4 separate regions of the Homo sapiens genome follow, and all the other regions are linked to region 2. Evidence: fine-mapped expression QTL. A gene starts in region 2. Each other region holds a variant in brackets. All regions are shown on one strand. Distances are from middle to middle.

Evidence for each region.
Region 1: its variant is fine-mapped to the expression of DNM1 in unexposed skin (GTEx, PIP above 0.99). The same link has a PIP of 0.9 or more in sun-exposed skin.
Region 3: its variant is fine-mapped to the expression of DNM1 in whole blood (TOPMed, PIP above 0.99). The same link has a PIP of 0.9 or more in cerebellum.
Region 4: its variant is fine-mapped to the expression of DNM1 in whole blood (TOPMed, PIP above 0.99).

What each region holds. Positions count from the first base shown.
Region 1 is chr9:128,250,679-128,255,678 of GRCh38, forward strand. DNM1 (dynamin 1) reads left to right here. Exons shown (of 22, transcript NM_004408.4): 21 at 47-262; 22 at 3,976-4,566. The coding sequence ends at 4,036. Among named protein-coding and RNA genes, the nearest start is that of MIR3154, 8.1 kb to the left of the region's middle. RefSeq lists silencers at 1-118, 129-218 and enhancers at 4,373-4,877, 4,878-5,000. The variant G/A (reference allele first, on the strand shown) is at 2,322.
Region 2 is chr9:128,199,662-128,207,023 of GRCh38, forward strand. DNM1 (dynamin 1) reads left to right here and starts at 3,718. Exons shown (of 22, transcript NM_004408.4): 1 at 3,718-3,970. The coding sequence starts at 3,810. It also overlaps a transcript of CIZ1 not described here. RefSeq lists enhancers at 3,401-3,500, 4,932-5,504 and silencers at 3,561-3,780, 4,349-4,643.
Region 3 is chr9:128,220,814-128,225,813 of GRCh38, forward strand. It overlaps DNM1 (dynamin 1), which reads left to right. Exons shown (of 22, transcript NM_004408.4): 7 at 1,384-1,526; 8 at 1,648-1,783; 9 at 1,980-2,047; 10 at 3,438-3,576. Among named protein-coding and RNA genes, the nearest start is that of DNM1, 20 kb to the left of the region's middle. The variant G/A (reference allele first, on the strand shown) is at 2,974.
Region 4 is chr9:128,175,924-128,180,923 of GRCh38, forward strand. CIZ1 (CDKN1A interacting zinc finger protein 1) reads right to left here. Exons shown (of 17, transcript NM_001131016.2): 6 at 4,798-4,891; 7 at 4,492-4,600; 8 at 2,786-3,492; 9 at 2,446-2,567; 10 at 1,643-1,840; 11 at 428-552. Among named protein-coding and RNA genes, the nearest start is that of CIZ1, 13 kb to the right of the region's middle. RefSeq lists an enhancer at 2,311-3,002. The variant G/A (reference allele first, on the strand shown) is at 1,919.

The DNA.
Region 1 (5,000 bases), 50 kb after region 2:
CTGCTCATCTCGCCTCTCCTTGTTCCTCGCTCCCTGTCGCCCTCAGGTCGCCCACGTCCAGCCCCACGCCGCAGCGCCGAGCCCCCGCCGTGCCCCCAGCCCGGCCCGGGTCGCGGGGCCCTGCTCCTGGGCCTCCGCCTGCTGGGTCCGCCCTGGGGGGGGCGCCCCCCGTGCCCTCCAGGCCGGGGGCTTCCCCTGACCCTTTCGGCCCTCCCCCTCAGGTGCCCTCGCGCCCCAACCGCGCCCCGCCCGGGGTCCCCAGGTGAGTAGGGGCTGAATGCGGCTGGAGAGGCTGCCGGACGGGCGTGGCCGGGAGGGAAATGGGGCTGGATTCCAGAGCATCGGACCTGGCCGCCAGAACCGGCCGTTTCTATCCCAGGCAATCGGACTCTGGGTGCCGGAGCCACGCCACGTGTGGCCGAGGGCTGGCGGAGCCTGCCCCCGAGGGAGCGCTGAGTCCCGGAGGTGGTCGTTTCTGGGGAGGGGGCTGTGGGGCTCGTCCCACCTGCCCCCTTCTTTCCAGCACTTGCATGGCGCTTCCCTCTATTTTCACTCTTGGCGGCCGCCCACACGTTGCATTCCTCCTCCTTTCTTCTTCTTGCTGTCCTCCATCCTCCATTCCGTCCAATTCCTCTCCCAGCCCCTGGGGAGCCTACCTTAGGTCTGACTCTGAACCCCGATCTGCTCTGAGTGTGTGGATTTCCTTCAGCTACCCTGATGTCCCCACTTCCCAGCCCTGACTCCTTTGAGCCATCCCAGGGGGTGTCCAGCCACTGGCCCACAGGAGCAGAGGCCAGGCTGTGACTGTGTGACTAGAAAGGTGTGTGATGTGTGTGTGGGCGTGCACACGAGTGTGAGAGTGTAAGCATGGCACCCAGGCCCGGGCTAGGACAGGAGCAGCTGGGGAAGCAGCCTGGGCCGTGGGCAAACTGATGGCTTTTTTCCTCCCCCCAACCACCCCCTCCGCGACTTCTGGCCCTACCCAGTCTAAACCAATGTGGTAGGGGTGGCGGCAGGGGCAGGGATGGGAGTGCTTGAAGCCTGCTTCATTCCCAAAGATTTCTAGGGAAAAGCTTTCTACTACATCCTTTGGCTTGACCTTCTTGACCCATGACTCTCTTTCAAGGAAGTTCACTCCAATTCCCAGTCTGCCCTGTTTCCACTGGCCACATTCTCTAAGGAAGAACACAGCAGAACAATAGCATCTGTTTTGTTTCTGCATGGCTGGAGGGTAGGGCTGTCGGTCTAGCACCCATAAACCAAAATGAGGCAGGGATTGGGGCTTGCCCTATGATGCTCTGATGACCAAAGCAGATGCGTAGAGGCAAGCAGCATGGTATTGGGCAAGAGGACTGGACTGGGAGTCCAGAGATGCTGCTTCACCCTGGGCCTTTAGACACGTCTCTTTCCCTCCCAGAGCCTCAGCATCCCTTCTATCAAATGATGACATTCTGCCTTTTTCCCAGGGCGGTTGTGGGGATCGAGGGAGACAGTGGCTATAGGGATGCTGTGTTAACTGCAGATGCAGCCGTAGGAGCACTTTGCTAACTGCCAACGTGAGTTCAGATTCTTCAGGGTATTTGGCACCCAGGTCTATGGTGCGGTGTGAGATCTGTGATGTAAGGTTTGATGCCTGCCCCAACTCCAGTCTTGCTAACACACATGAAACATTTGGCAAATCATGACCCTACCTTGGGGAAAAGAGCAGTCTGGGAGAGCTTCTTCAAGGCAACCTGACTTCAGTGCAGTCTGAGGCATGGCTGAGATAGGCTTACGTGGCAAGGAATCAGGAGGGTATCTGGGCCAAGAGCTGCAGTGTGGGCAGAGGTGTAGTGTGGGCTGCAACGAGGACAGCCACTGGACAAAGCAGAGAACAGAGACAGAATGAGGAAGAGCTCTGTGGGCAGGGTGGGGCGCAAGGTGGAGAACCTTCAAAGTCTGAAAAGTTTGACTTGTTGGGGCTCAATGCTGTGGGCAGTAGGGAACCACAGAAGGCTCTTAGGTGGAGAAATGACAGCTGGACTTTAGCGAGCAAGCCCTATCTCCATGAGCAGCACGGGTGATCCTCTAAGCACACCAGGCACGAGTGTGCAGGGAGCTGGTGCAAATGCCTCTGTGTGCGGGTGAGCTTCTGTGTTGTGACTCTGCCCACACGTGTGCTTCAGTGTGCTGAGTGGCTGCATGCCCCAGATCCATGCTGCACGCGCCGCCGGCCAGTGAGGGTGCTGGGCACTGGGAGGTGGCGGGGAAGGAGGCGTATGCGTGTTGTTTGTGGGCATGTGTGTTAGCGTGTGCATGTGGGCCATGGGGCCTCACAGCAT[G/A]TGTGTGCACGCCCGGGCGTGTGCGTGTGTGTGTCCCCCACCCCCAGGCCGGCCCCACCCGTGCGTGTGAACTGCCATGTTGATTTCGTGCTGTCTTTCAGAATCACTATCAGTGACCCCTGAGGAGCGTCAGCCATGGTAGGTACATGCCTCACCGCCTGCTGCATGAACGGTGTGTCTGCCCCGCTGCACTAGCTCCACACGGGGCGCGCACCTGGGACCTCAGAGCCAGGCTCCCCGCCCCTCCCTTCTGCAGCTGCAGACTTGCTCTTTCCTCTTTCTGTCCTTGTGCCGCTGGCTCTCTCACCTCCCTTCCCTGCGAGCCTCGGGACTCAGTGCCACTGCCCAAGGCCTCCATGGCTGAGCCTGGAGGCTCTTGGAACAGGCTCCGCGCCCAAGCTGGCAGACATGGGTGCTCTCTGGAGCCGTCAGAGAGGGCAGAGAGCTCGTGGTTTATGGTGTAAAGGCTGGGAGCTTGGAGGGGGTCGTGTGTGGGGCTGGACTCTGAGGCGGCCAGAGGCCTAGGAACGTTATCCTGGGCACACCGTGCGTGGTGTGCAGTCTGAGTCATGCTCCCTGGGTAGGGCATCCAGCTCCCAGCCTGGGAGTGCTGAGAGCCAAATCCACCGTAGAGCAGGGGTGAGAGTCAGGGTCCCACCTCCTCTATCTGCCGGCAATCCAGTGGTGACCTAGGGTAAAAGCTTGAGAGTCCCATACACACGGTCATCCCACGACATACCTCACAGGCCAGGCAGGGACACACAGCCCCCTTCCCTCCCTCCCAGGTACCGTCATAGCTGCTAGTGTGACTGAAGGCAGTGTCCCTGGCCCCAGCTGAAGCACCGTAGCCAGCCAGCGGGCTCACGCACCTTGGCCTGTTGCTCCTAGGGTCACTTGTGCCATTCAGCCAAGGGGACGACCGTGCCTGCTGGCCCAGCTGAGCTCCGCCCAGTGAGCCCACCCCCCATTCTCCTGCCACTGACTCTCGCTCTTCTGCTTTTCCCAGCAGGAAGGGCCCAGCCTCACCTACGAGACCTGCAGCCCCCCGACCAGCTGAGGCTCCCCTCTTAGACTTATAAGTCTATGGCCACTGGCATCCGGCTGCCTGCCCTCCCTGCCTCCCCCAGGGTCCCTTCAGAGGGTCCTGGGTTTTCTGAACACCCAGAGGGGCCTCCGGCGCTCCCTCCAGCCATCCCTTTTAGTTTCACCCTCCTGGTTCAAGCAGTGTTCTTTCTCTATCAGGCCTGGTGGCTGTTGCATGGGGCTCCCCAAGGCAAGGGGTGGCCCCAGGCCAGTGGGTTGGAAGACAGGGTGACCAGAGAAGAGGGAAGCCCGAGGGGGCCGAGCATCAGCCTGAATTGCGGGTGCCCTGCCTGGGTGCCGTGTGAGAGGCCAGCGTGTGTGGGGTGGGGAGGGCCGCCACAGCCCCCAGGCGCTATCTGTGAAGCTACGGCTCCTCCCTCCATCTTCCTCCCCTTTCCCTTCCAGCCCCTTTTCCAGGAACCTTGCCACACCCACACCTGCAGCCTCCCCTCCCCGGCCCTCCCACCACTGCTGCGGCGCGGCCGGCCCCGGCCGTGTGCTGCGCTTGCCTTACCAGCTCTCTCCTCGCTTTTCTCTCCCGTTTTCTCTCTGCTTTCTCTCCAACTGCCAGCCGATCGGGTCAGGCAAGTCCATCCCGTCCTGAGAGCCCCAGGCCCCCCTTCGACCTCTAAACAGATCCCTCCTCTTCTCGGAGACCTCCCTTTCCAAGCCTGCCTGGACGGCTGTTCTGTGACTTGACAGTGGCTCCCCCAGCCCCAAAGCCAGCCCCCTTCATCTGTGACTTAATCTGTTGTAGTGGTGAGCTGATACATTCAGGTGTGACCGTTGGTGAAAACTTGTGCCCCTTCTGTGGTATGCCCTTGCCCTGTTCTATAAATATCTATAAATACTCATATATATACACACCTACACATGGCCAACCGCCTCGCCTCTAGCGCTGGGAATCAGTCACTGTGCTATCCTTGTGGAGTCTTGTGGCCCAACTACCAGAGAACGCTGTCCCCCGACATCCCACTCCAAAGTGTGCCACCTCCAGTGAGCCTCCTTGTCATGCCCGGCCTGTGGACAGCCAGCCCCCGCCATCCCTCCCACCCCCTACCAAGCATGGGGGTGCTGTGCAGGCAGCCGTGTGGCCTGACAGTTTCTACCAGTCCTGCTGTCCCTCGGCTGAGAATAAAACCCATTTCTGGATGATGGGGAATGTCTCCTCTGCTGGTTGTGTTCTCTCTGGAGCTCAGGGGAGGGGAAGGGCTAAGCCATTACTAGGGTGCTGCTGGGGGTGGTGAAAAGACCACATCTTTTCCAAGGGACATTTTTCCTGGAAAGCCCCTGGAGCTTAGGGGGCTCTCATCCTGTGAAGCGGGCTCTGGCCACTAGGGGGCAGGGCCATTAACTCAGCCTGGAGGGCGCCGGCAGGGCGGCTGGCATTCTGGAGGGACAGACAGAACAGGCCACCAGGCTCAGGCAGGCGAGGGAGGCAGGGGGACAGAATGGAAGACACCTGGGCTGGATGGAAGTCAGTGCCCTTGGGTGCTGGCATCCTGTCTTCCTGGCCACCGCTAGATCAGGCTTCTGAGCCTGTTGGCCATCGGGGCCAAACTGTCCCCATAGGTACCATGGTAGTCCCCGTGTAAT
Region 2 (7,362 bases):
GCTACTGCACTCCAGTCTGGGCAGCTGAGCAAGGTTTATCTTATCTCTAAAAACAAACAAAAAAACAAAAACAAAAAAGCTTTGGGAGCTCAAGAGAGAGTAAAGAAGCCATTTCTTTCTTTCTTTTTTTTTTTTTTTTTGAGATGGAGTCTTGCTCTGTCACCCAGGCTGGAGTGCATGGTGTGATCTCGGCTCGATGCAACCACCACCCCTGCCTCCCAGGTTCAAGCAATTCTCCCACCTCAGCCTCTCGAGTACCTGGGATTACAGGTGCGGGCTACCATGCCCAGCTAATTTTTGTATATTTAGTAGAGATGGTGTTTCGCCATGTTGGACAGGCTGGTCTCCAACTCCTGGCCTCAAGTGATCCACCCGCCTTGGCCTCCTAAAGTGCTGGGATTACAGGTGTGGGCCACTGCACCTGGCCCTGAGATTCTTCTTTTCAACCAACTCCATGTGATGCCAGGCTGCTGGCCTGGCATCAGTGATACAGCAGTATAGGATACTTAGTATAATCCCATTTCTGTAAAAACAAAATGGAACAAAATGAATATGTGCATATATGAAAAACAAAGCCAGAGAACGATCCCTAAGCTATAGTGGTTATCTCTAGGTGGGAGGATGACCAGAGGTTTTCAAATACTTGTGTAAAGTCTGGTTTTACAATAAGTTTCAATATTGTAATTAGGGGGGAAAAAGTAAAAATAATAAAAGCTGGCTGGGCATGGTGGCTCACAGCTATAATCCCAGCATTTTGGGAGGCTGAGGCGGACAGATCATGAGGTCAGGAGTTTGAGACCAGCCTGGCCAAGATGATGAAACCCCGTCTCTACTAAAAATACAAAAATTAGCTGGGCACAGTGGCGAGCACCTGTAATCCCAGCTACTCAGGAGGCTGAGGCAGGAGAATTCCTTGAACCAGGGAGGGAGAGGTTGCAGTGAGCTGAGATCACACCACTGCACTCTAACCTGAGCGACAGAGCAAGACTCTGTCTCAAAAAAAAAAAAAGAAAGAAATACAAAAAATTAGCTGGGCGTGGTGGTGCATGCCTGTAGTCCCAGCTACTTTGGAGGCTGAGGCAGGAGAATCACCTGAACTTGGGAGGCGGAGGTTGCAGTGAGCTGAGATCACGACACTGCACTCCAGCCTGGGAGACAGAGCGAGACTACGTCTCAAATAAATAAATAAATAGGCTGGGCACAGTGGCTCATTCCCGTAATCCCAACACTTTGGGAGGCTGAGGCAGGAGGATCACAAGGTCAAGAGATCGAGACCATCCCGGCCGACATGGTGAAACCCTATCTCTACTAAAAATACAAAAATTGGCCGGGCGCAGTGGTTCACACCTGTAATCCCAGCACTTTGGGAGGCAGAGGCAGGCAGATCACAAGGTCAGGAGATGGAAACCATCCTGGCTAACACGGTGAAACCCTATCTCTACTAAAAATACAAAACATTAGCCGGGCGTGGTGGCACGAGCCTGTAGTCCCAGCTACTTGGGAGGCTGAGGCAGGAGAATTGCTTGAACCCAGGAGGTGGAGGTTGCAGTGAGCCAAGATCGCACCACTGCACTCTAGCCTGGGTAACAGAGCGAGATTCCGTCTCAAAAAACAAACAAACAAACAAAAAATACAAAAATTAGCTAGGAGTGGTGGCACGTGCCTGTAGTCCCAGCTACTCGGGAGGCTGAGGCAGGAGAATCGCTTGAACCCAGGAGGCAGAGGTTGCAGTGAGCTGAGATCATGCCACTGCACTCCAGCCTGGCGACAGAGTGAGACTCCGTCTCAAAAATAAATAAAATAAATAAGTAAATAAATAATATTAAAAGCCCAGCCATGATGCCCTCTAGGCAAACATCTATAAACTGCACCCCCTCCTGGTGCCAGTCATCCAGGCTTCCATCTCTGCCTTCTCTTGTCCTCAGAGCATAATAACAGGTTGGCATGGAACAGCTGCCAGGTTCCATGCAAGTTGTGTGGCACTGATGCTCCAGCTGTCTGGTGAGCTGTTATCATTGGCATCCTCACAGCTGCAGCTTAATAAGGGCCCCCTGAGCACTAGGCCTGGGCTGTGCCCTACACAGGCATTTGATCTATTATTATCCCCATTATCCAGATTAGTTAACTGAGGTTCAGAGACGTGGAGGGACCTGGGTCACGCAGCTTGTTTAAGGCCCAGATTAGACTCCTAATCCACTCTCTGGTGCTACCAGGGAGAGGGCCTGCTTGTTCCCCATGCCTGCCTCGAAGATTCCTCCCCACAAGGGTCACTCTCTGATCACCATCTTCACAATAGCAACACCACCCTACCCCGCCCCTGCTTTCTTGCTCTGCAGGGCACGCCATCTAACAGGGCCATCGTTATTGCCCTATTTGCATATTGTCTGTCTTTTTCCACTGAATTGTCAGCCACATGTGGGTAAGGACTTTGTCCGTTTTGCTCACTGCTTTATCTCTGGAGTCTAGCATAGTACCTGGCTCAACAAATACGCATTAAATGGATGAGTAAGTGAACAGTCTCCAATTCACAGACCACTTTGTCAGCAGTGCCCCCACACTGTTCACAGCGCAGGGAAATGACTCACCGACTCCCCATGAGCACAGTGTAGGCTAGCCTTCCCTTCCTAGCCTCCACCGTGAATACTAATTAGGTTTCTTAAATGCAGAGATGGACGGCTGGGCTCAGGGCCCCATGGTCTGTCTGTGTGAAAGGGTACGCAGGGTAGGATTGTAGGAGCCCTGGATTTGAATCCCACTGTTTTACGCTGTTTTACCACCATCCTGATGGGTTGGAGCAAAGACTTCCACTCTCTAGGACAAGAGCTTCCAACTCTCCCAAGAAGGGCCCTCCAGGTGTCAGGGCCTCTGCACTTGCTGGTCATTCAGCCTGGCATGCTCTTCCCCTGATCTGCTTGCTGCTGGCTCCTTCTCATCATTTTGGTCTCTTCTCAAATGTCACTTCTGCAGAGAACACCCCCGACTCCTGCCAAGCCAATGTGAACTTTCCACACCCACAAAGATACCTTTTTTCACCCTGTTTATTTCCTCCATCCCTCTTACTATGAATTATTTTCATTTTTACTATTTCATTTATCTGCTTACTTATTTACTGTCTGTCTCCCCAGCTTGATGCAAGATCTATGAGGGCAGAGGCCTTGGCTGTCTTATTCGTTGCTGAATCTTCAGTGCCTAGGACAGGGCCTGGCTTCTAGCAGGTACCTAGTAAATATTTGTTGAATTCATGTTCCAACTTTCTCCTTCTAGAAACAAGGAAACTGAGGACCAAAGGCAGAAGAGGACATGTTGGAGATCAGAGTCAGGATCTAGGGATAGAAGCCAGCGAGATGAAGGGGAACTCATCTCGGAGTTCTGACCTCTGAGGTCAGGAGGCTGTGACCTCAGAGGAAGCCCATCTGCTCTCCAGGCCTGTTTCCTCATCGGTAAGATGGAGTGAAACATCCAGACCACTCTCCAAGAGGCCTGGTACTAGGAGTGAGACCCAACCCATTGACAAATATATTCTGCGCAGCATCCGCGCACCCCAGACACTGCTAAAGCACCCCAAAAGCCGCAGAAGGTGAAAACTACGACACCCATGATGCCCCGGACGGCGCCTGCGCACGGCGGCCGGCCCGCAGCGCCGCGGGCTCCCCCTAGCGGCGTCCGGGAGCGGTGCTCGCTCCGATCCCCGAGGGGCGGGGGCCCCGCGGCGCAGGCAGTCTGGGCGCGCGGCTGCAGCGGCGGAGCCGGAGTCGGAGCCGGGAGCGCTAGCGGCAGCCGGATCGCAGCCTGCGGGGCCCGCCGCAGCCATGGGCAACCGCGGCATGGAAGATCTCATCCCGCTGGTCAACCGGCTGCAAGACGCCTTCTCTGCCATCGGCCAGAACGCGGACCTCGACCTGCCGCAGATCGCTGTGGTGGGCGGCCAGAGCGCCGGCAAGAGCTCGGTGCTCGAGAATTTCGTAGGCAGGTAGGCGCGGCGCGCCCCCAGGCGCCGACCCCCGACCCCCGGGATCCCTGGAGTCCCCGCCCGGGGCACTGACGGCGCGGCGACCTCGCAGCCCCCGACGCTGCACCCGCGGCCGGCGCGCCCCCCACCCCCAGCCGGAGCGAGGAGGCCCTCCCCCCACCACGAGAGCCCCTCGGGGCAGCAGCGCCCCCCGCTAGTCTGCAAACGTCGTCAAGCCTCCGGCTACCGAATCACGCCCCCTCCTCCGTCCCATCCTTTAGGGCAGACAACGCTCTGCCAGAAGCCCCGGGCAAAGAGCTGCCCCCCGCCCCCAACATGGGCATGGAGAGAGCCCGCATTACTCAGCGTCTCCGTTGGGCTCCGGGAGTCCCTTGGAGCGGGCAGCACCCGGGGGCAGCGTCCCCCACACCGGGCTCAATGGGGGACATCCCCCTACCCCCATGGGAATTCCTGGGCCGTGGCAGAGGTCAGCCCCCGCATCCCAGTCCCTAGAAGAGGACGTAGTCCCGCGGGCATCGAGGACCGGGCACGGCCTCCCGCCAGCACACACACACCTCTGCGGCTCCCGCCGCCATCCGTGCGCAGCGCGGCGAGGGGGGAGGCGCGGGCTGCAGGATGAGGAAGGGAAGAGGGGAGGAGAAACCACTTCTTATCCTTTTCTGAGCAGCCGGCCCCTTGCTTCGCCACGGCCCCTGGGTGGGGGGCGCCTGTCAGTGTCGCCCTCCCCTTGGCCTGGCCAGAGGAATCGTGTTGGAGGGAGAGGCGGCAGAGGGCAGAGATGACTAAGACAGGGATGGCGGGAGGGGGGAGCCATTTGCAGAACCTAATCCCCCTCCCGCCTCTGATCCCACAAGGCGCTGAGAGGCCTAGGTGGCGGAGAGAGGAACAACCGCAAAGACAAAGGGTCGTGGGTTTAGCGGGGCAGGCAGGGTCGTGACCCGCAGGCTCCCCACAAACCCCCAAAGGGAGGCAGAAATAGTTTTTCTGGTGCTGAGGAGAGAGAAGAAAGATAGGAGCTCTCCAGGTACTGGAGGTGGGTTGGGGGGCTGGGCAGACTGGGGGATGAAGTGAGAGAGTTTACACTGACCCCGTCTTTCATCTCCCCCCCATCTTCTTCAGAAACTCTTGCTTTCTTCCAATGACCTTCAGGGCCAAAAAAGTGACTGGCACATGGGAGAGGGAGGCAGGGGCCCTTGTCCGCAGAGGTACAGCAGTTCTGTCCAAGCCAGGTTCTGCTGCAAAACCTCAGGCAAGTCACTTGCCCTCTCTGAGCCTCAGTGTCCCCATCTCTAACATGGACAGTGGGACTGGGTGGTTGTTCCTGCCCCTCAAATGTCCTGGGAAACCCATGCCAGCCCTAGAGGTGAGAGGGAGAGGGCCTGACTGGAGCCATGTGTGTGTGGGACGTTGGAAGGCCACCGTGGGGGCGGCCGTGCCCATCTGGTCAGCAGAGGGGAAGGCATCTGTCTCTCCAATGGCTCCTGCAGAGCCCCCCTTCTGATCACATGACCCCCGGAGCTGCAGAGACACAGGCAAGAGACACACCACGGGCCCCTTCCCCAAGGGCCAGCAGTCAGGGATATCCAGCAGTTTAGAATGGAGAAACCATATTCCTACCTCTCGTCCTTTGAATGTTGGCTGAACTCCTGCCCCATGCCAGGCTGCGTGCTTCAGGCTTGGGGTAGGGAGGGGACCAACTGGTGATTTCAGCCCGCATCTACTGAGCCCATCCCATGCATCCCCCTATGCTGAGTCCTTCATAGGCTCACAGGAGCTCCCAAGAGGCAGGTACCATGATGCCCATCCTACAGATGAGGAAACTGAGACCCTGGAGGTTAGATGCCTTGCCCAAGGTCACACATTCAGAAAGGGCAGCAGCTGTTAGACTCCAAAGCCCAATTCCTAATCTCGACGCTGCACATCCTCTGACAGCCGGGTCCTGCACCAGGCACAGGGACGTGTGGGTGGGTGGGCCTCCATTTCCCCATCTGCGGAATGGAAACGCTGACAGCCGCTGCCCTGCCTTCCTGAGAAGGTGACTGTGGGCTCCACCGAGTTCATGGGTGGAAAGGTGCTTTTGTAAACATGCGGGAGGGGGCGCTGATAGCCAATTAGGCTTGGGGACCTGCATGCCCAGCCCCTGCCTTCCTGGAGCCCATGACGCAGGGGCCATCCCTGACCACAGCAGATTTCATCGAGTACTTGCTTGTTGAGTGGTGGAGCAAGGTTTGGACCGTGCCCCAGGAGGCCTGGGCCCTCTGGCTGCCCTCTCCACCCCAATGCCCTTGGCCGTTGTCCCCACAGGAGGATGTGCAGGGTGTCCAGATGCAGGCCCAGGGCAGGGGAGGGGGCTTAGGTTGATGTGAAGGAGTAGGCAGAAAAGCATTCATGATCCTCTGAAAGCTAGTGAGAAGGCCAGGGAAACTGAGGCTCAGTGGGTTCCACTGTCTCAGCCTGCCAGCTCCCTCAAGGGCTCCTGACCTCTCCAACAGGGCTCAGTCCCCAGACTGGTGAGCATAGTAACAGCCATTCTGTCTCCTGGGGCTTCCCAGGAGCCAATCCCCAACAGAAAATGCTTCACAGGAAAATGCATCAGGGCTGCCCCAGGCCCACCCGGGCTTCTGGGTGCTCAGGAGGATCCTGCTGTCAACTCTGCAATGGAGGTAGCCTTGCAGCTGCCTGGGATGCTGCTAGAACTTGTCTGGGTCTATACTATTTCTTCACCCCCTTCCCTTTTACAGAAGGGAAAACTGAGGCCAATTCATTCAGTCATTTAGCAAACATTTGTGGAGGGTGCACGATGTCTCAGCACTGGGGATTCTATGGTGGAAAAGACCAAGACTCTGCACTGCAGAGGGAGAAACTCAGAAGACAACTGGAAAATGTGGTGAACGTCAGGGAGGGGAGTGGGGCTGCTCTCCCCAGGGAGGTCAGAGGTCTCCAGGAGGAGGTGGCATCTGAGATGAGAACCAAGGGATGAGAAGCTGTGTAACTTGCCAGGGGCGGGAGAGTTCCAGGCCAAGGGAAAGGTGCAAAGGCCCCGGGGTAGCAAAGAATTTGGTGCCTTTGAAGAACAGAAAGGAGACCCTGTAGCTGGTATTCAGCTAGCAAGGGGGAGACAGGACCTGAGAGATAGGCAGGGGCTAGATCTACAAAGCCCTTAGGCCATGAGGAGTGAGGAGTTTGGGTTTATTTTCTCTCTTGTGGGAAGCTTTTTAGTAGTGGAGTGATGAGCTAATTCTAGCAAGGGTGTGACTTGGGGAGCGGGTGAGGGAAAAGGCAGGAGACTGGTGGGGAGGCTGCTGCAGTGGGCAGGGGGTAGTGGGGGGCCTGGACAAGGGCTTCAGCTGCAACCAGAAGGAGAATGGTGGGTGGGTTTCAGGATATATTTT
Region 3 (5,000 bases), 20 kb after region 2:
CAGTTTTGTCACTCCCCCTCTGAGACACTCTCTCTGGCTCTCTGAGCCTCTATTTCTTTTTTCTTTATTTGTTTTCTTTCTTTCTTTCTTTCTTTCTTTCTTTCTTTCTTTCTTTCTTTCTTTTCTTTTCTTTCTTTCTTTCCTTTCTTCTTTCTTTCTTTCTCTTTCTTTCTTTCTTTCCCTTCCTTCCTTCCTTCCTTCCTTTCTTTCTCTTTCTTTCTTTCTCTCTTTCTTTCTCTCTTTCTCTCTTTCTTTCTCTCTTTCTCTCTTTCTCTCTTTCTTTCTTTCTCTCTTAGATGGAGTTTTGCTCTTGTCACCCAGGCTGGAGTGCAATGGTGCGATCTCAGCTCACTGCAACCTCTGCCTCCTGGATTCAAGGGATTCTCCTACCTCAGCCTCCCAGGTAGCTGGGATTACAGGCACACACCACCACGCCTGGCTAATTTTTGTATTTTTAGTAGAGACGGGGTTTCACCATGTTAGCCAGGCTGGTCTCGTACTCCTGACATCAGGTGATCTGCCCGCCTTGGCCTCCCAAAGTGCTGGGATAACAGGCATGAGCCATAATCGTGCCTGGCCTCTGAGCCTCTATTTCTGCATCTGTAAAATGGAGACAATGGTGATCAGACCTGTTTCATAGGATTGTTGTAAAGGTTCAGGGAGATACTGTGTGGGGGCACCTAGTGAGCATGAGTGCTAGAACTTGAGAATGACCTTAAAGGAGGCTTTAAACCCAGAGGGTCCAAGGGGCAGCCCTCTGGCCACCCCTGCCTCAGACGCACGTCTAAAAATATTAAATTGGGATGGTATGGTGGTTCATGCCTGTAATCCCACCACTTTGGGAGGCTGAGGCGGGTGGATCACTTGAGGCCAAAAGTTCGACACCAGCCTGGCCAACAAGGCGAAAACCTGTACTAAAAATACAAAAAATTAGCTGGGCATGGTGGTGCACGCCTGTAGTCCCAGTTACTTGGGAGGCTGAGGCAGGAGAATTGCTTGAAACTGGGAGGCAGAGATCGCAGGTTGCAGTGAGCTGAGATCACGCCATTGCACTCCAGCCTGGGTGACGAGTGAAACTCCGTCTCAAAAAAATAATAATAATAAATAAAAATAAAAAGATTAAATTGGCCAAAAATCAGGAAATTCCAAATACAAATCCAGATTTCTGGCTTTATTGAAAATTATGCACTCATTAATTCAACTAATACATCTCTGCAAGCTCCTTCTATGAACCAGTTTTCTTGCTAGTGGCCCGGGCAGCAGTGGCAGGGCTGCCCTCCATAGCTCTCCACCTCACCACGTTCACACAGTCCCCTGGCATCCAAGTCCCTTCCTGGCCCTGTGACCATCTGTCCTCAACCCTTTCCTCACCCTTACCCCCAGCAACTGACGAACCACATCCGGGACACACTGCCGGGGCTGCGGAACAAGCTGCAGAGCCAGCTACTGTCCATTGAGAAGGAGGTGGAGGAATACAAGAACTTCCGCCCTGATGACCCAGCTCGCAAGACCAAGGCCCTGCTGCAGTGAGGCTCCCCCAGCTCCTATCACTGAATCCCCGCCCCCAGCCTCTCAGCGTGGGGCTCTCCCAGGGTTCCCTTTGCTGGGCTGCTCCTGCCCCCTCAGGCCACACCACTCTCCCACCAGGATGGTCCAGCAGTTCGCCGTAGACTTTGAGAAGCGCATTGAGGGCTCAGGAGATCAGATCGACACCTACGAACTGTCAGGGGGAGCCCGCATTAACCGAATCTTCCACGAGCGCTTCCCTTTCGAGCTGGTCAAGGTAGGTCAGGCAGCCCTGGGGACAGGATGGCTCAGGACTCCCCCCACCCTCACTCAGGACTCTCTCTGCGTGTGTTTTTGCTGGCCCCCACCCCACAGGCCCTGATGCCCAGCCCTAGGTGTGGGGTGGGCCCTGTCTTGACCTCCCAGGTAGTAGGACAGGCCCTGACCAGGCTTTTCTCTGCTTTTCTACACAGATGGAGTTTGATGAGAAGGAACTCCGAAGGGAGATCAGCTATGCTATCAAGAATATCCATGGCATTAGGCACGTATTGGGGCCTGGGAGGGTGGCTGAACCCCAGAAGTAGGGGGTCTGGGACAGAGGCACAGGGAGTGATGAAGTGGGCCTCCCTCAGGAAGGACTGAAAGCTCTGTTCCCCAGTCCTCTCGACCCCAACTTTCTGGCTCCCTGCATGACAGGCTCCAGCTTGGGGAGGTGGACCCGGGCCACCCCGCCTACTGCAACTTGCTGGGCCAACTGGGCACAGCCCAGGGCGCAGGTGGCCGGGGAAACACCCTCTGGGGCTGGGCCCATCCCCAGGGTGAGATAGCTCCCCCAGTGCCACCCAGGTAACCGGACAAAGATGTCCAAACCACTACGAGGGCCTGGGGTGGAGCATCTAAGTATGAGGCTGTGTCCTTTTATGACGGCCGGGGACTTTGCAATCCTCCACACCCTCCTGTATTCACAGTAGCCCAGAGTCAGTCCCATTCCACCCCACCGCCCTCCTTCTAGGCAACCCGTGGAGTAGGAAACAGGATTGGGAGGTGGAATCTGTTCCTTAAAAGCTTAGATCCCCTTCAGGGACCCAGATCTATGCTGTGTTCATCCAACAAATCCACTGGGCCGGAAAATTTAAAGCACCTACCCTATGCCAAGCAGTGAACAAGACCCAGTGTCCCCTTGCTCTCATGCAGGTTCATTTCCAAGATTTGGCATGGAATTTACTTCCTGATAACTGCACTGGCCAATTCACAGAAAAAAGATCTCTTTCCTAGTCTTAAAACAAAACACTCTATTCCTGGAAAGGCTCTTATGGAGAACCACGTTTGGCAATTTTCAAGCCATTTCTGGCCATAGAACTTCCTATATGCACAGACCCTTACGAGGAAGCAGGACTTACATATCAGATACTCAACCACCTTGTCTTGCCCCAAAGAGCCTCATTAGGGCCGGGCGCGGTGGCTCAC[G/A]CCTGTAATCCCAGCACTTTGGAAGGCCGAGGCAGGCGGATCATGAGGTCAGGAGATCGAGACCATCCTGGCTAACACGGTGAAACCCTGTCTCTACTAAAAATACGAAAAAATTAGCCGGGCGTGGTGGCAGGCGCCTGTAGTCCCAGCTACTTGGGAGGCTGAGGCAGGAGAATGGCGTGAACCCGGGAGGCGGAGGTTGCAGTGAGCCAAGATTGCGCCACTGCACTCCAGCCTGGGCGACAGAGCAAGACTCCGTCTCAAAAAAAATAACAACAACAACAAAAAACCCTTCATTAGAACCCCTCCCTCCCATTTTACAACTGGGGACACTGAGGCCCAGAGAGGGGTAGTGGAAGGGCCCCTCAGGCAGAGTTCGTGGGCTTGGGGAGGAGCCTCGGCCTGGCCCTCCTGGCCGGCACTGGCCTGTGACACTCTGCCCTTCTCCCGCTCCGGGCGTTCAGAACGGGGCTGTTTACCCCAGACATGGCCTTTGAGACCATTGTGAAAAAGCAGGTGAAGAAGATCCGAGAACCGTGTCTCAAGTGTGTGGACATGGTTATCTCGGAGCTAATCAGCACCGTTAGACAGTGCACCAAGAAGGTAACCCGGAGGCCCGGGCCAGCCCCCACCGCCTCTGCCCCGCCCTGCACTGCTGCCAGGCGCTCCTTCCCCATGTCCCCCCCTGCCTCCTCGGTAGCATGTACAGACCTCAGCGGGGTGGGGAGGCAGGCCACCACTGAATAGGAGACAATGTGCCTCTGAGAGGGCCTCACCCACCCCTGGCCCCCAGGTCTGGGGACCCAGGGATTGGACATGGGTGAGACGGGGATGATGGCTGGCTGTTTACCCCAAGAGCCCACCAAGAGCTCCCCCAGCTCAGAGAATAGGGCTTGAGGGGACCCTGAGCCCCCTCCCTGTCCTCGGAGGTGTCATCTTTGGGAGCTCCAGGGAGGGGTCTGGGGAAACCTTAGCCTTGGAGACAGGTGAAATGCAGGGCCTTCTCGGGCACTGCTCGGTGGGCCTGGGTGGCCAGAGGGGGTGCAGAGGACCCAGGACTAGCAGGTGCCCTGGCTCCCCGCTGTCCTTCATCCTCCCCATACTCATCTCACCCTCACTCAGGACCCTCACACAGGATGCTCACGTAAGACCCTCACTCAGGGCCTCTCCCTCCCTTCCATCCACATCTGGCTTTCCAGGGATAGAGCCCTTCTCCCATCTGCCCCACCATCCAAGCCTCACAGAAGCACGCAGGGAGGCAGGACAGGGAGGACGGTGCCCATTTCACAGCACGAACACTGAAGCTCCAGGAGATCAAGTGGCTTGCCCAAGTCACAGTAGTCAGGAGGTGGCAGAGCTGTTACTTGAAGCCACGGCTCTGGACTCCAAGTCCAGTGCTCCTCGATTCCACCCTCCAGCCTCCCTTCCTTTCCTCTCCCCACTGCTGTCCCGGCCCCTCTCTATCACTACCTCTACTCTTTCTGTCTTTCCTCTTCTCTTTCTGTCTTTTGGTTCCACCAAACCCCTGTGGAGGAGAGGCCAGGAATGCCCCTTGAAGAGAAAGGGAGGGGCGGGACTAGAGCAGGGAGCTGGAGAGGGAGGTCAGGCTGCTATACTGCAACCCTAGGAGGCAGCCTCTGCGCCACGGTTTACGGGAATGGACCCCCCTGGAGTTGTGCAGTGCATGGCCTGGGCAGCTGGATGCGGCAACCCTAGAGATAGGGAATGGTACTGAGGTTTGGAGTCAGGATGAAGCAAATTCTGGGACACTGGGAAACGTAGAATTGAACAGGATGGGTGGATGAGGTCCTGGCCTTGTCCTGGCCTGGGTCAGCTCCTTAGGAGAACCCAAGGCTGTGGACAAAGACGGCACTGGGAGAGAGCAGGCAGCCTCAGTGAGGCCGAGGAGCAGGGGAGCATCCCTGGGAAGAGGATCTGAACTCAATAGGGGTCTTGTACGGAGCAGGGGCTTGGTCCCTCGTACCTCTGGCCATACCTATGGAGCCCAGGGGATGCTTGGCAGCACC
Region 4 (5,000 bases), 25 kb before region 2:
GAGGGCTGAAGTTTCTGATTAAACAGGCTCCCATGACAATGAAAGGGGGAGACACAGGGAAACCCTAACCTCCAACCACAAAAGAACCTGATCCTCAGCCTTGTCACCCCACAGCGGGGTTAGCACACATGCCACAGGGGGCAAGAGTCTGTGCCACAACCTGTCCTCTCCCACAGGGATGGTCATACTGTTCCTGCCTAGAGGGAACCTTAAGAGAATGTCATGAATTCCTGTACTATATCCGTCACCAAGCCATGTTACAGGCAGGGAAAACTGAGGTTCAAGGTCACACAGTTAACAGTGTGAGGAGGCCTGGCTGGGGGTGCAGTGCTTAACCCAAAGGTAAACCCTGCAGATGGTAGATTCAGGCCCTGGCCGATGAGACTGCCTACCCCCCAACACAGAGCTTCCACGATCCCCCACTCACTCATCCTCTGTCTCCAGGACGTCCCGGGGCACGGGCAGCAGGGACAGGAGGCAGGCTTGGCTCATGTGCTGGATCTCCCCTAGCCGCTGCTGGTGCTGAGGCTCCGACATGTGGTCCTGGAACTCCTGCAGCAGGAGGGAAAGAGGGATGGGCCTGGGGCGTGAGCCCAGAACAGTGGGCAAGGCTGGGGCCTGGGGAGGCAGACCCCAGCCTCATCACTGTGCGCCCATTTCTCTCACCACACATTTCTCTCTTGTGTAGGCTAGAGCAGGCATGATAAACTAAGACACAGGGTACATGCCAGCCCGAGCTTCTGCCCCTCCCAGAGAATGTGTGAGTGCCTCAAAGACAAGGAGCGGCCTGATTAGCATCCAGGTCTCCAAGGCTGTGCCAGGTGAGGCACAGAGTAACACAGCTCACAGCACAAGAGTAGTAATACAAGTACAATGCGATCATGATTACTGCTACACTCACTTTGGGCCAGGCCTGCGCTCAGGACTCCAATGTCACATTGCTGAATCCCCAGAACCACCCAGTGAGGTGGATTCTAAACGTTTCTTTTTTTTGTTTCGTTTTGAGAGTCTCGCTCTGTTACCCAGGCTGGAGCACAGTGGCATGATCTTGGCTCACTGCAACCTCTGCCTCCTGGGTTCAAGCAATTCTTCTGCCTCAGCCTCCTGAGTAGCTGGGATTACAGAAGCATGCCAACACATATTTTTAGTAGAGACGGGGTTTCACCATGTTGTTCAGGCTGGTCTCAAACTCCTGACCTTGTGATCCACCCACCTCAGCCTCCCAAAGTGCTGGGATTACAGGCGTGAGCCACTGTGCCCGACCCTAAACTTTCCTTTGTCTGATGCAAGAGGAAACAGGCACAGGGTGGAATTCGCTTTCCAAGGTCTCCCAGCTACTCAGAGCCGATATGAACCAGGTCTGACTGACTCTAAAAACCTGCTTGAGCCCAAGAGGTAGAGGCTGCAGTGAGCTGAGATCATGCCACTGCACTCCAACCTGGGAGGCAGAGTAAGACCCTGTCTCAAAACAAAAAACAAAACCACCAAAACCTGCCTTCTTGGCAGGTCAGGAAATGTTTCCCAAGCAAATGCATGGCTGCTTGGGGCAGGGCCCATTGCAGCCTGAGGCATTCTTGGGAGGGCAGGCTGGGCATTCCACGCAGGCCCCACCCCTCCCCACCCTTATCTCCTGTATCAGTACCTGCTGGCTGGAGCAGCTGGCCTTGCAGATGTAGCAGAAGAACTGGAGGGCCTGCTTAGAGGGAGTGCTGGTAGCCGCAGGGGTGGAGGAGACGGAGTCACTGGGGCGGGGGACAGGTGTCAGGGGTACAGTGCTAAAGGCCCGGCTGTCACTGCTCTGCAGAATGGTGACCTTCAGGGAGCCCCCGGCGCCCCATACCTGCATGGGGAGTAGGAACTGAACTTCCATCAACTGTGTACTTATAGTGGGCCAGCCCAGCATTCAACATCTGCCAAC[G/A]TTGTCTCATCAGATCTTCCTGATGATAGGGAAACTGAGGCTCTGAGCTGTTAGCTGACTACCCCAGCTTGCACAGCTAGAAAGCACTGCAGTCAGGATGCGAACCCAGGTCGGCCTAAAGTACCACTCATCCCACCCCTTGTATGACAGATGGGGAAACAGACTCAGGAGGGAAAGGGTTTGCCCACAGTTACGCAGAGCTGGGACCCAAATCCCACAGAGAGGCTTCCACTCTGTGCTCTCTCCACGAGAGCAACATTACCCATGCGAGGAGACTGGGGCTCTGGCTTGGGGATGGGCAGGCTGGAAGGGACGGATGTGAAGACAGCACAACAGCAAGAGGGTCCCATGCACACCACTATCAAGCCCAGCCTGGTCTGGCCACCCATCCTAGGCAGAGGGCTGTCATCCCATTTCACGGTGGGGGAAACACAAGGAGGCCCTGAGGTGGCCTGGGGCAGAAAGAGGCCATCCCACCCTGCTGGGCTCTGTGGCCCTCACACTGCCACATCAGGGCCTCTACCCACCCCTGGCATCTCTCTCGCTCTGTTTTCACATTCTCCCACATCTAGGCCACAGGCCGACTCATTCTGAATCTCTTCCATGCTGACTTGGGTGCCCACAGGCTCTGGCAAGGTCTTTTCCATGCCTGAAATGACAGATGTGCTGTATTTCCCAGAGTCCCCAGGCCCAAGAGCTGCCTTCTCCGTCCGCAGCCAGAACCTTGAGGCCCCCAGCATGGATGGCCCTGGACCTGGGTTCCAGGCCTAGCCCTCAGTCCCAGGCAGCACCCAGTCAGGGGAGGAATGAAGGGTCTGGGCAGAGCTGTCCCATCACCAGACCAGCTGGGAGCCAGTGCTCACTTACCTCCACCAGCTTCTACTGCATCAGGTGGCATCTCCAGCCCGCAGACATGAACCACAACTGGTGTTTGCTCTGGAGCCAGCAACGACACCTGCGGCTGGGTGTGAGGCTGCTCATGGGTCTGCTCTGGTGGCTGTACTGACACCTGCGCTGGAGGATGCTCCTGTGGCTGGACGCTTGGCTGTGCCTGTGTGTGGACCTGTGGATATGTCTGTGTCTGGACCTGCTTCTGCAGCTGCAGCTGCACCTGCCTTGGGGGCTGTGAATGTGCCTGGGGCTGCACCTGTGGCTGCACCTGCTTCAGCGGCTCTGCCTCCTGCTGCAGCTGCACCTGCCTTGGGCCCTGTGAATGTGCCTGTGGCTGTACCTGTGGCTGCACCTGCTTCTGTGGCTCTGCCTCCTGCTGCAGCTGTGGCTGCACCTGCTTCTGTTGCAGCACTAAGTGCTCTGGAGAGGTCTGTGTTTGCGCCTGCTTCTGCAGCTTTGGCTGCACCTGGGTGTCTGTGGATGGTATCCGCGGCTGAGTCTGTGACTGCACCTGGGCCTGGACCTGCAGGACCCGTGGCTGGAATCGTGGCAGCACTTGGGCTTCCAGGGCCTCAGGCAGCAGGTCTGGTGTCTGTGTCTGTTTCGGTACTGTCATCCGGGCCTGCGGCTGGGCCTTCACCTGTAACTGCCCTGGAGGTTCCTTCTCTGTGGGCTCTTCTGAGCTAGGAAGGATCAAAAAAAAATCCCAGTCATGTCTTCAAAGAGGCCCCAGGGGCTCCCAAGTAAGGCCAAAACTAGGCCGAGCGTGGTGGCTCGCATCTGTAAACCCAGCACTTTGGGAGGCTGAGGCAGGTGGATCATTTGAGGTCAGGAGTTCCAGATCAGCCTAACCAACATGGTGAAACCTGGGATTACAGGTGTGAGCCACCGCGCCCAGCCCAAGACTGTTTCTTTTTGTTTGTTTTTGGTTTTTTGTTGTTGTTTGTTTGTTTTTTTGAGATGGAGTTTCGCTCTTGTTGCCCAGGCTGGAGTGCAATGGCGCGATCTCGGCTCACCACAACCTCCGTCTCCCAGGTCCAAGCGATTCTCCTGCCTCAGCCTCCGGAGTAGCTGGGATTACAGACATGCGCCACCACACCCAGCTAATTTTGTACTTTTAGTAGAGACGGGGTTTCTCCATGTTGGTCAGGTTGGTCTCAAACTCCCAACCTCAGGTGATCCGCCCGCCTCAGCCTCCCAAAGTGCTGGGATTACAGGTGTGAGCCACCACATACAGCCCAAGACTTGGTTTCTAATGCTGGCTCTACCACTTACAGGCTGGGGATTTGGGCAAACTCCTTTGGCTGTCTAGGCCTCAGATTCACCTAAATAAACCGGGGAGGATCGTTCTCACCTCCCACAACTTGCTGACATGTATCCAATTGGCTTTGTAAATGGCCTGCCCACTACGGTCCCAGATGAACGTCTTCACCCCTCCCACGCAGCCATCCAGCTTGGCCCCCAGGTGGCTCAGTCTCAAGGAAGACACCAGAGTCTGGCTGGGAGCTTCCCCAGGTCAGGTGCGGAAATAAGTAAGGCCTTCCTCCAAATCAGAGGCCAAGGCCCTTTCCTTGCTCCAGCTCCACTGAATGGTGCACCCCCTCTGCCATTGCCACCCCTGCCTTTGCAGGAATGAGAGCACAGGGCACCCGGGCGCAGGTCAGGTTTTCAGCATCAGTTACCTCCTCAATCTCTTTGCTGGCAGCTCGGACGCCTCACAAGGCTCAGGCTCAGGTGCTGGAGTGCGTTTTTCCTTGGCGATGTCCTCTGGGCAGGGCGGTAAATCTTGGTCTGGAATGGAGGCATGAGCGAGGGAACTCATGTTGGGAAGAGCAAGCATCTCTGACCTCCAAGAGATGGGGCCTGGGCTCCCCGCCTTCCCACCAAGAACCCCTGCCTCCCACACCTGCCTCTATCACCTGCTGACCCGCCCACTGGCCCCACCCCATTCATGTCCCTCTGAAGGGCCAGCAGCCTCCCTCCCTCACCTTCTGGTGTGTCCATCCGGGGCTCTGCGGCTTCCTCAGACCCCTCTGGGGGGTCTGACTTGTCTTCCACAGGCATTGTCTGAGAAGAAGAATCCTGCTTCCTTTCAGAAACTATGTTGACATCCAATACCCACCCCTATCAATACCCCCTTGCCCAAGGGCAGCTGCCCCCCATCCTCCAGGGGATGACAGGGCCCTGAGGA